Linked DNA regions of Homo sapiens: region 1 is linked to region 2. Evidence: fine-mapped expression QTL. A gene starts in region 2. The other region holds a variant in brackets. All regions are shown on one strand. Distances are between the middles of the regions.

Region 1 (4,330 bases), 32 kb after region 2:
AAGAGTATGCACCTTGTTTCCTGCTAACTAGGGTGTGGACGAATCAGGAGCCAGTAGATTCACAGTGCTGTTTCCATCAGGGACTCCTTTGCCAGCTCGAAGACAACACACATTGCAAGCCCCTGGAAGCATATCTTCAGTGTGCCTTGAACTCTATGAGTCTGATGGGAAGAACTCTGCCAAAGAGGAAACCAAGTTTGCACAGGTGAATACATAAAGTTAGACACATTAAACTGTTCAACTTTGCTTTCTGGATTAGATTCAGTTTAATATCTTAATACAAAATGTGTATATATATAAAGGACACCTAATACATTTTTATGAAGGATTTTATGAAGGCTCATTTCTGAAAATGAACACCTGTGTACTCATTTTTGAAAGAGGGAAAAAATAGGCAGTTCTAATTTGAAAGAGTTCTGGGTATTTAGACTGCTTCTCTGTTGTGCTCTTGGCCTACCTTGGTAGTTAGGTAAGTGGAATGGGAGAATTATATTTTTTGGTTCATGCTAAATGCACATTATTGTGTACGTTTTACAGATGATTAAGAAGTTGGCCTGTGATAGCAAATACCCTTTATTTTCTTGGTCAAGCTAGGGTTTCTCCTCACGTTGGTTTCATTTCTGAGCCCATGACATGCTCTTCCCATTGTGCCATGCTGCCTCTGAGACAAGATAGGTTTGCTTTTTTAAAATACCGCGTGCATATCTTATACTATGTGACCCTCTGTATGCTTTACAGAGAGTGAAGTAGAGCCACGTTATTTACTTAGAAACATGTCTGAGAAATGCAGTTGCATTCACACACACACACACACACACACACGGACTGCAGAACAGTATTTGTATTACAATGCCATTTGTATCTAAATAAAAAGTCTGGGAGCATGAGTGTGTGTGAGGAGGTAGTATTTGAGTAGGGGTGCATTTTCAGATATCCAGGCATTTATACAGAAAATATCTATAGGTACTTAAACCATATTCCAGAAACTTCACAGTAGGTAAATAAGTTTGAAGGTACCAAGAGGGGTTTTTTGACTTTTGACACCTTATACTGAATTTTTTACAAACAGCACAGGACATGAGCATGAATTACTTTTATAGTAAAAATTAAATATCGGTAACAAAAAATAATGTACTGTTTTTTTTGTTTTTTCTTTTTTTGAGACGGAGTCTCGCTCTCTTGCCCAGGCCAGAGTGCAGTGGCACGATCTCGGCTCACTGCAAGCTCCGCCTCCCAGGTTCATGCCATTTTCCTGCCTCAGCCTCCTGAGTAGCTGGGACTACAGGCGCCCACCACCACGTTCGTCTAATTTTTTGTATTTTTAGTAGAGACAGGGTTTCACCGTGTTAGCCAGGATGGTCTCGATGTCATGACCTCATGATCCGCCTGCCTTGGCCTCCCAAAGCAGTATTGTTTTTTAAAAAATATATGCACATTCAGAGAAGTCCAGAAGCAGACTAAAAATGCCTAGCTTTTTTGAGAAGACAGGGTGTTTATTAGTGATGAGATATTGTGTGTGTACGTGTACGTGTGTGTGTGTGTGTGTGTGTGTGTGTGTGTAAAGAGATACATATCTTTAGCTCACATATTTATTTTAATTTTTTTTTTTTAAGACGGCATCTTGCTCTGTCACCTAGGCCAGAGTGCAGTGGCATGATTTCAGCTCACTGCAACCTCCACCTCCCGGGTTCAACTGATTCTCCTGCCTCAGCCTCCGGAGTAGCTGGGACTACAGGCATGCACCACCACACCTGGCTAATATTTGTATTTTTAGTAGAGACAGTTTCACTGTGTTGACCAGGCTGGTCTCAAACTCCTGACCTCAGGTGATCTGCCTGCCTCAGCCTCCCAAACTGCTGGGATTACAGGCATGAGCCACCACGCCTGGCCACATATTTATTTTCTAATTCCAACAAAAGAGTAATGAAAACACACA[C/T]ATGCATAACATGCCTGGGCTGCACCTCAGACTTACCAACTTGGAATCTATTGGTAAAGTTTTAAAAGCGCTTCCACATGAATTGGTTTGTGTGTGTCTAAGAACCTTCCCATGCACCAGGTTTTTGAACTCAGATGGCAGTCCTAGTATTTCCTTAGCTCTTCTCTCACAGTTCTGTTACCTTTTTCTTCACATCCTCTCTGAGACTCCATAGCTGCTGCCACTATATCCTAACTTAAAGATGCCAGGAGGAGCGTTAGCCACGTAATACTGAATTTGGAAGAGAATCTTTCAGAGTTCCCATCTGTTCTAACCTTATTTTACAAATGAGTAAAACAAGGTACTTAGTAACTTACCTAAGTTATTAAACTAGAGTTTGGCAAAGCCTAAAGTCACTGCAGAACTCCAAATCTGGTTTCTTGATATACCATTCTTTAGGAAACTGAGGAATTTTATAGTAAATTCATTACCATCTCTTACTTACAAATATAATCTTAGTTGTACAAAAGAGTTTGCCATGTTTTTAAGTAGGTGATTTTCCAAATGTATTTAAAATGCTTGATTTTTTTTTTTTAAGTATATATAGAAAGCTAGCCAAATTATAATTTGCGTGTTACTGGGAATGGCTTACTTACCAAAAAAGAAAAGTAGCCTTTATTTTCCAAGATTAATAGTACATCTTAGAAACAATGATTTTAATCTAGGACATGACATTTAGAAGGGACAAATGCATTAGTTATCTTATATGCCCTCCTTCTGGAGGAAACATTTCAAGTTAACAAAGCTTCACTCCTATTCTCTGAATTCTGATTCAGTGGTAGGAGAATTGAAAACTGCCCTATTTTAAAAAGGTTTGTTTCAGTGATAAATAAGCTTTGGTCCTTTGCAATAATTGATACATCAGTTCATTTATGTAAAGATGCTGAATTCTCTTCATATTGTTCTTGTATAAACAGGTTGTACTCCAGGATTTAGATAAAAAAGAAAATGGATTACGTGATATATTAGCTGTTCTTACTATGAAAAGGTAAAAAATTAAACTTCTGTTGTTAAGAAAATTCAATTTGATACTTGACCATTTTTTGAGTTTATTGATTTTTTTATTTATTGTCATTCTAGAAGAAACATTAAAAACCTACAGAGGTTTTTATCAGTGAATTACATTTTTTGCCCCCAGAATTACTATATTTTACAAAGAAAAGTATATCTCAAGTCATTTGCATCTTGAATATTTTAGGAACTCTTTATTTTGGCTATCATCAACCTAAGAAACTGATCTGTGCTCATTTGAGATGTAATTTATCAATTTCTAGTATAATTTTCTAAGGTTTATGTAACTGTTACTGTTTGCCCTATGAAAGGGTAAGTTTCTTTATTGCTGCAGAAAATCTGTAAGAAAAAAATGTACTAATTAAATTCAGCTATTGCCATTTTCCTAACCACAAGCTATCCATATCACTATGTATTACAAGTAAATCCTTTCCAAATGAAACTTAAAAGACAACTTACTCCATAAACGATACTTAGCAAGAATATAGAATTCATCAGGGTGAGTTTGCCTTGGCCTAGGCTTGAAAATAGCATGGTGCATCTGGAGCTTATATAAAGTCTTAAACCTAAGATGTTTGTCATCATGGGTTTTCAAGAAATACAACCATGATCTTAGTGGTCTGGAAGGAAGTTCCTAATAACAACTAGCTAAATATAACATATGACACTTACTAAATTTAGAGACACTGAGATTGTGTTTATTCTTTACATTAATACCCTTCTTTTGAAAATTAAAATTAACCCTTGTTTACTGAAAGCCCTCAAGTAACTTGTTACAGACTTTATGTTTTTATAAAATGAGCTTGTGCAATGTTCTTTATTTTTTTGTCTGTTTAGGGATGGATCTTTACATGTGACATGCACAGATCAAGAAACTGGAAAATGTGAAGCAATCTCTATTGAGATAGCATCTTAGTGTTTTAGAGAAATCAAGAATTTTTAAAAACAAGAATATCAACATTTGGTTTTGTGTATAAGTGGTGTTTGTATTAAAATACTTTTTCAATGAACTGTATAAACTATGTTTTATTAAACTACAATATATCAGTAAGTGTTGCAACCCTTTGTTTTTGACGTACAGTAACCTCTTATTACTGGGAAATATAAGGAAGTTTTTTTTTTTTTTTATCATGAAGCTGTTTAGAATTAAACTGAGTTGGTTAAAGAATTTTCTATAACATTTAATTTGTAAAAGTCTTCTATTGATTCTTGTTAGATAACCAAGAGAACAATTAAAAGTCATTGACATTAATTGAAAAAAATTTCAGGACCACATAGAAAGTAAGATGCCTTTTTTTGTTGGTTTTTGTTTTTAGAGACAGGATTTTGCACTGCCACCGAGGC
Region 2 (4,336 bases):
TACCCAGTGAATTTAATTTTTTTCAAAATATTTTGTAAATGTAACGAAACATATCAATAGGTCCGAGACGGCTCAGGAACCATTCAGTTTTTTTGCCTTCGCTCTAGAGTATGTATAATATGGCATTTTAATCTTATACATTGAGAAGAAATTAAGTTGTAAATAAGAAAGGAGGCTGAGGAGGGAGGATCACTCATAAGCAGTAATAGAGCTGGATGCAGAATCTGGTTCTTTTAGTTACCAAACTGTTATGTCCTTCCTCTGCGATTACACAAGCTTCTTTACCTAACAAATGAAATATATAGACAGGTTAGTCAGACATGCAATAATCACAGCATGCTGTAATAAATTTAGGACAGACAGCATAAGCTTCCCATTTAATTAATCCAGATGCTGTCTCTCTTGAAACATTTATAAGTGGGAGCCCCAGATGAGTCATCAAATCAATTGTCTTTGCCTCACAAAGTCTGTTTTAAAAGTATAGGACACAATTATAGCATGGTTTGGAGCAAAATTATAACTTAGCTAAACAAATATCTTTATATCGAGTAATAACATGTAGATATTTTAAATTTCTGGAGAAAAGTTTAATTATTGCAGAGCTCATAGAAAGCCAGGCTCCAATTATTAACACTTTAAGGACTGGGCGCTGTGGCTCACGCCTGTAATCCCAGCACTTTGGGAGGCTGAGGCGGGCCGATCACCTGAGGCCAGGAGTTCAAGACCAGTCTGGCCAACATGGTGAAACTGCATCTCTATTAAAAATATAAAAATTAGTCAGGCGTGGTGGTGGTGCCTTTAGTACCAGCTACTTGGGAGGCTGAGGCAGGAGAATCGCTGGAACCCGATGATGGAGGCTGCAGTGAGCCAAGATTGTGCCACTGTACTCCGGCCTGGGCAACACAGTGAGACTGTCTCAAAACAAAAACAAAAACAAAAAACAAAACAACAAAACAAACAAAAACACAACTTTAGTACGACTATACCCATCCATTCACTCAACATATATGATGAACCTACAATTTCCTGTTCACTAGGGATATATTTTCCAGCTGAGGGCATATACATTTAAACTAATTATTTTCAGTAAAACATGGAGTGAGCGCTACAGGAGTCCAGAAGGAAGGGGCTAGCATAGCCACTTACCTTCTTTGCCTTTGCTAACAGATCTCTAAAGTGAAGTACGCTGATTTTGCAAAAACCAAAGTCTCAGAGCTAGGGGACTTGGTGGGATACAGACTCACGTATTCTGACTGCGAGTTCACAGCTGAGATACCGTGAACAAAAAGGAACCACTCTTTTGTATTCCTCTCTTTCCCAAGGAGTCAGTGTACTCCTTTGCAAAGCAATTTTCACCTACAGAGTCCTAACAAATATTAGCTATGTCCTCTGATTTAAGCTACTCAACTCAATGCCATGTTTTGTTTTCCTTTGGGGAGTCACCAACTAGCTTGGACTTGAAAGACGTCTTCTGTGCAAGGGGAGGCAAATCTTGCTGGTTGGAAGCAGCAGAATCAATCTGGCGCCAGTATCATCTGAATCTAGCATTCTTTGCACAAACTCTAATCCAAATACAAACCCACCAGCTTTTACTGCTGAAGTTTAATATTCACAGCAAAACCACAACGTGGCCTCACGTTACCACCAGGCCCGGCTTGAGCTTTTTACTCGAGCTGGGCTTGGGCGATCTAAAACGAGGGACAGGGCCTGCATTTCCTGGGCGGAATGTTATTTATAGCCAGGGCCAGGAGAAGCCAAAGCCGACAGCTGCTGCGCCGCAGCGCGGGGCCGCCGCCATGCAAGCAGTTGTCACACCGCTCACCTTCACAGTCGGCCCCTGGCCGCCCCCCGGCCTCCTGGCCCTGCGTCAGCACCGGGTGAGAGACCAAAAGCCCGGCGCAAAAGGCCACCACAGCAACTGGGCTCGCGCACCACATGCTGGGCCAGCAGCTTCAATCGCCTCCGCCACCCGCGCCCACCGCCCACCAAGCTGCCAAAGCGAGCTGAGCAGAATTCGAGGTTGGAAAGAATCTGCCAGTAGTTGCCAGGACAAATGACGCAACTGAACACAGAGTTTCCATTGGCTCTCAAGGAAGGGATAGGAAGGGGGCGGAGTGTAGGAGCCTTTTCCCGTCCCTCCCCGGTTGCGCGTGCGCACTGTGCAGTTTCCGCGGAGCGCAGAGACGCGCTGAAGCTACTCGCGGACTGCGCGTGAAGAAAGGCGGAACCTTCACGCTGATTGGCGGCGACGCGGGAGGCTGTAGCGGCCGACCGGACGCAGGGGGCTGGCGGGAACGTGAAGCTCCGCGGTGCCTGATGGGGCCGTTGGGCGGCCGGTAGCTGTTGCTGTTGGGGGACCCCCTCATTCCTGCCGCTGCCGTCCCTGCTGCCTCATGGCGGCCATCGGAGTTCACCTGGGCTGCACCTCAGCCTGTGTGGCCGTCTATAAGGTGAGGGGCTGCGGAGCTGGGCTAGGGCTTCATGACGGCCACCCGGTTTTCTGGCGCTGGGTCATCCACAGGCTTGAGAGCGGCGTGTCGCCGGCCTAGGGATGTCGTGGAGTGGCGTTGCCGCGAGGACACTCCGGAGCGAAGGGCCGGGCAGGCCCGGCCTCGCGCCTGGCGATTCCTCCGGAAAGTCGTCTACTCCGCGGCGGAGGCTCGCGGCGATGTAGACGCGCGGGGTCCCAGGGCGTCATGGCGGCGGGATGCCCGGAGGGGTCCCAGGGACGACGTAGCTGCAGGGTGCCCGGGGGGGTCCCGGAGACAGCGGGGCCGCTGGGTGTCCCGGGGGGTCCCGGGGACGGCGGGGCTGCGAGCATTTTGGGGGAGGTCACGGGGACGTCCTGGCCTCTGGATGCCGGAAGGGGTCTCGCTGACGTCAGGGCCTCAGGATTCCCGCGGGTGGGAGGTCCTGGGAAAGTTGTGGCCGCGAGGTACTTGGAGGCGGTGGTCTCTGGGACAGCAGGGCCGCAGAACGCGCTGAGCTGGGCCCGAACGTCTAGGTCCCGGAGGGGCGGGGAGGCTGCAGTCGAGCTGGGGCTGATGGTCCCGCAAAGCTGCCTGGCTGTGAAGCCAGTTGATGGTGCGTGGTCTACAGAGGTGGCCTTTCTGGAAGTGAGAGCCTGACAGGACTTGTGGCCTTTCTCTCATCAGTGGGGAGGCAGAAGAAACGATAATCATGAACTCCGTTGCCACTAGTCCCGCGTTTAAATGTCAAATGACTTGTTAGGAAAAGCCAAAGGGAATAATACTACTTCATTTGTAGAAATGGGAAGAAAGGGGCCCAGCGCGGTGGCTTACGCCTGTAATCCCAGCACTTTGGGAAGCCGAGGCAGGCGGATCACGTGAGGTTAGGAGTTCTAGACCAGCCTGGCTAACATGGTGAAACCCCGCCTCTACTAAAAATACTAAAAATTAGCCGGGAACGCCTGTAATCCCAGCTGCTCAGGAGGCTGAGGCATGAGAATGGCTTGAACCCGGGAGGCGGAAGTTGCAGTGAGCCGAGATCTGGCACTGCAGTCTGCACTCCAGCCTGGGCCACGGAGCAAGACTCCGTGTCCAAAAAAAAAAAAAAAAGAAATGGTAATGGTAAGAAGGAAGAGAGGTAGGAAAGGTAACGTAATAATAGCCTTCGTTTTGTGTGTAGAAAGGTTGTTATTACTTTTGATTCAATTGTTGACTTTGCAGAGCAGACTGAAAACATGAGGCAGTTCTTCATGGAATTATAGGCTTTCTATGAAAACGAGGAAATTAAATGGTAATTAAATTTGCAAGTTTAAAATATTGAGATAGCAGTTTTTCTTTCCACACAGATGGCAAAGTAACACTGGTGCACAAATGCACACGTCTGAATACGTCTAATGAGACTATGTATTTCGTGTTTTTTTCTCTAGGATGGCCGGGCTGGTGTGGTTGCAAATGATGCCGGTGACCGAGTTACTCCAGCTGTTGTTGCTTACTCAGAAAATGAAGAGGTACTAGTCCCCCCATTTTTGTACTTCTGAAATAATTTAAAATTACATACATTGTAATATATATATATATATATTATTTTTTTTTTCAGATTGTTGGATTGGCAGCAAAACAAAGTAGAATAAGAAATATTTCAAATACAGTAATGAAAGTAAAGCAGATCCTGGGCAGAAGGTATGGAATCAAATGATACTTTTAAATATGGTAATAGGAACATGTTCATAAATTCTAAGCATAATGTGAAAAGAAATTAGAAACAGCATAGTTTGTTTCTTCATTGCTTTTTATGACTGAGTCATTACAGAGAGTACCCCCAGTAGGCAGTGTCTTTTGATTCTTAGTGTTGGATCTTCTCTGATATG

Alleles and levels. Alleles are on the strand shown, and positions count from the first base shown. SD is a standard deviation of normalised expression in the study named.
With allele T in place of C in region 1, the expression in thyroid of the gene that starts at base 2,028 in region 2 is lower (small effect, 0.19 SD a copy in GTEx).

The links. PIP is the estimated chance that this variant, and not a neighbour inherited with it, causes the effect. A credible set is the group of variants that fine-mapping cannot tell apart.
Region 1: its variant is the best candidate, but not a certain one, in a credible set for the expression of CDNF in thyroid (GTEx, PIP 0.71).

The regions. Positions count from the first base shown.
Region 1 is chr10:14,867,705-14,872,034 of GRCh38, forward strand. HSPA14 (heat shock protein family A (Hsp70) member 14) reads left to right here. Exons shown (of 14, transcript NM_016299.4): 12 at 32-205; 13 at 2,893-2,963; 14 at 3,824-4,037. The coding sequence ends at 3,902. It also overlaps a transcript of SUV39H2-DT not described here. Among named protein-coding and RNA genes, the nearest start is that of SUV39H2-DT, 8.8 kb to the right of the region's middle. The variant C/T (reference allele first, on the strand shown) is at 1,937.
Region 2 is chr10:14,836,010-14,840,345 of GRCh38, forward strand. It overlaps CDNF (cerebral dopamine neurotrophic factor), which reads right to left and starts at 2,028. Exons shown (of 4, transcript NM_001029954.3): 1 at 1,823-2,028. The coding sequence starts at 1,937. It overlaps HSPA14 (heat shock protein family A (Hsp70) member 14), which reads left to right and starts at 2,297. Exons shown (of 14, transcript NM_016299.4): 1 at 2,297-2,450; 2 at 3,896-3,976; 3 at 4,066-4,148. The coding sequence starts at 2,394. It overlaps MSANTD7 (Myb/SANT DNA binding domain containing 7), which reads left to right and starts at 2,297. Exons shown (of 5, transcript NM_001378785.1): 1 at 2,297-2,450; 2 at 3,896-3,976; 3 at 4,066-4,148. RefSeq lists a silencer at 2,081-2,190 and an enhancer at 2,341-2,580.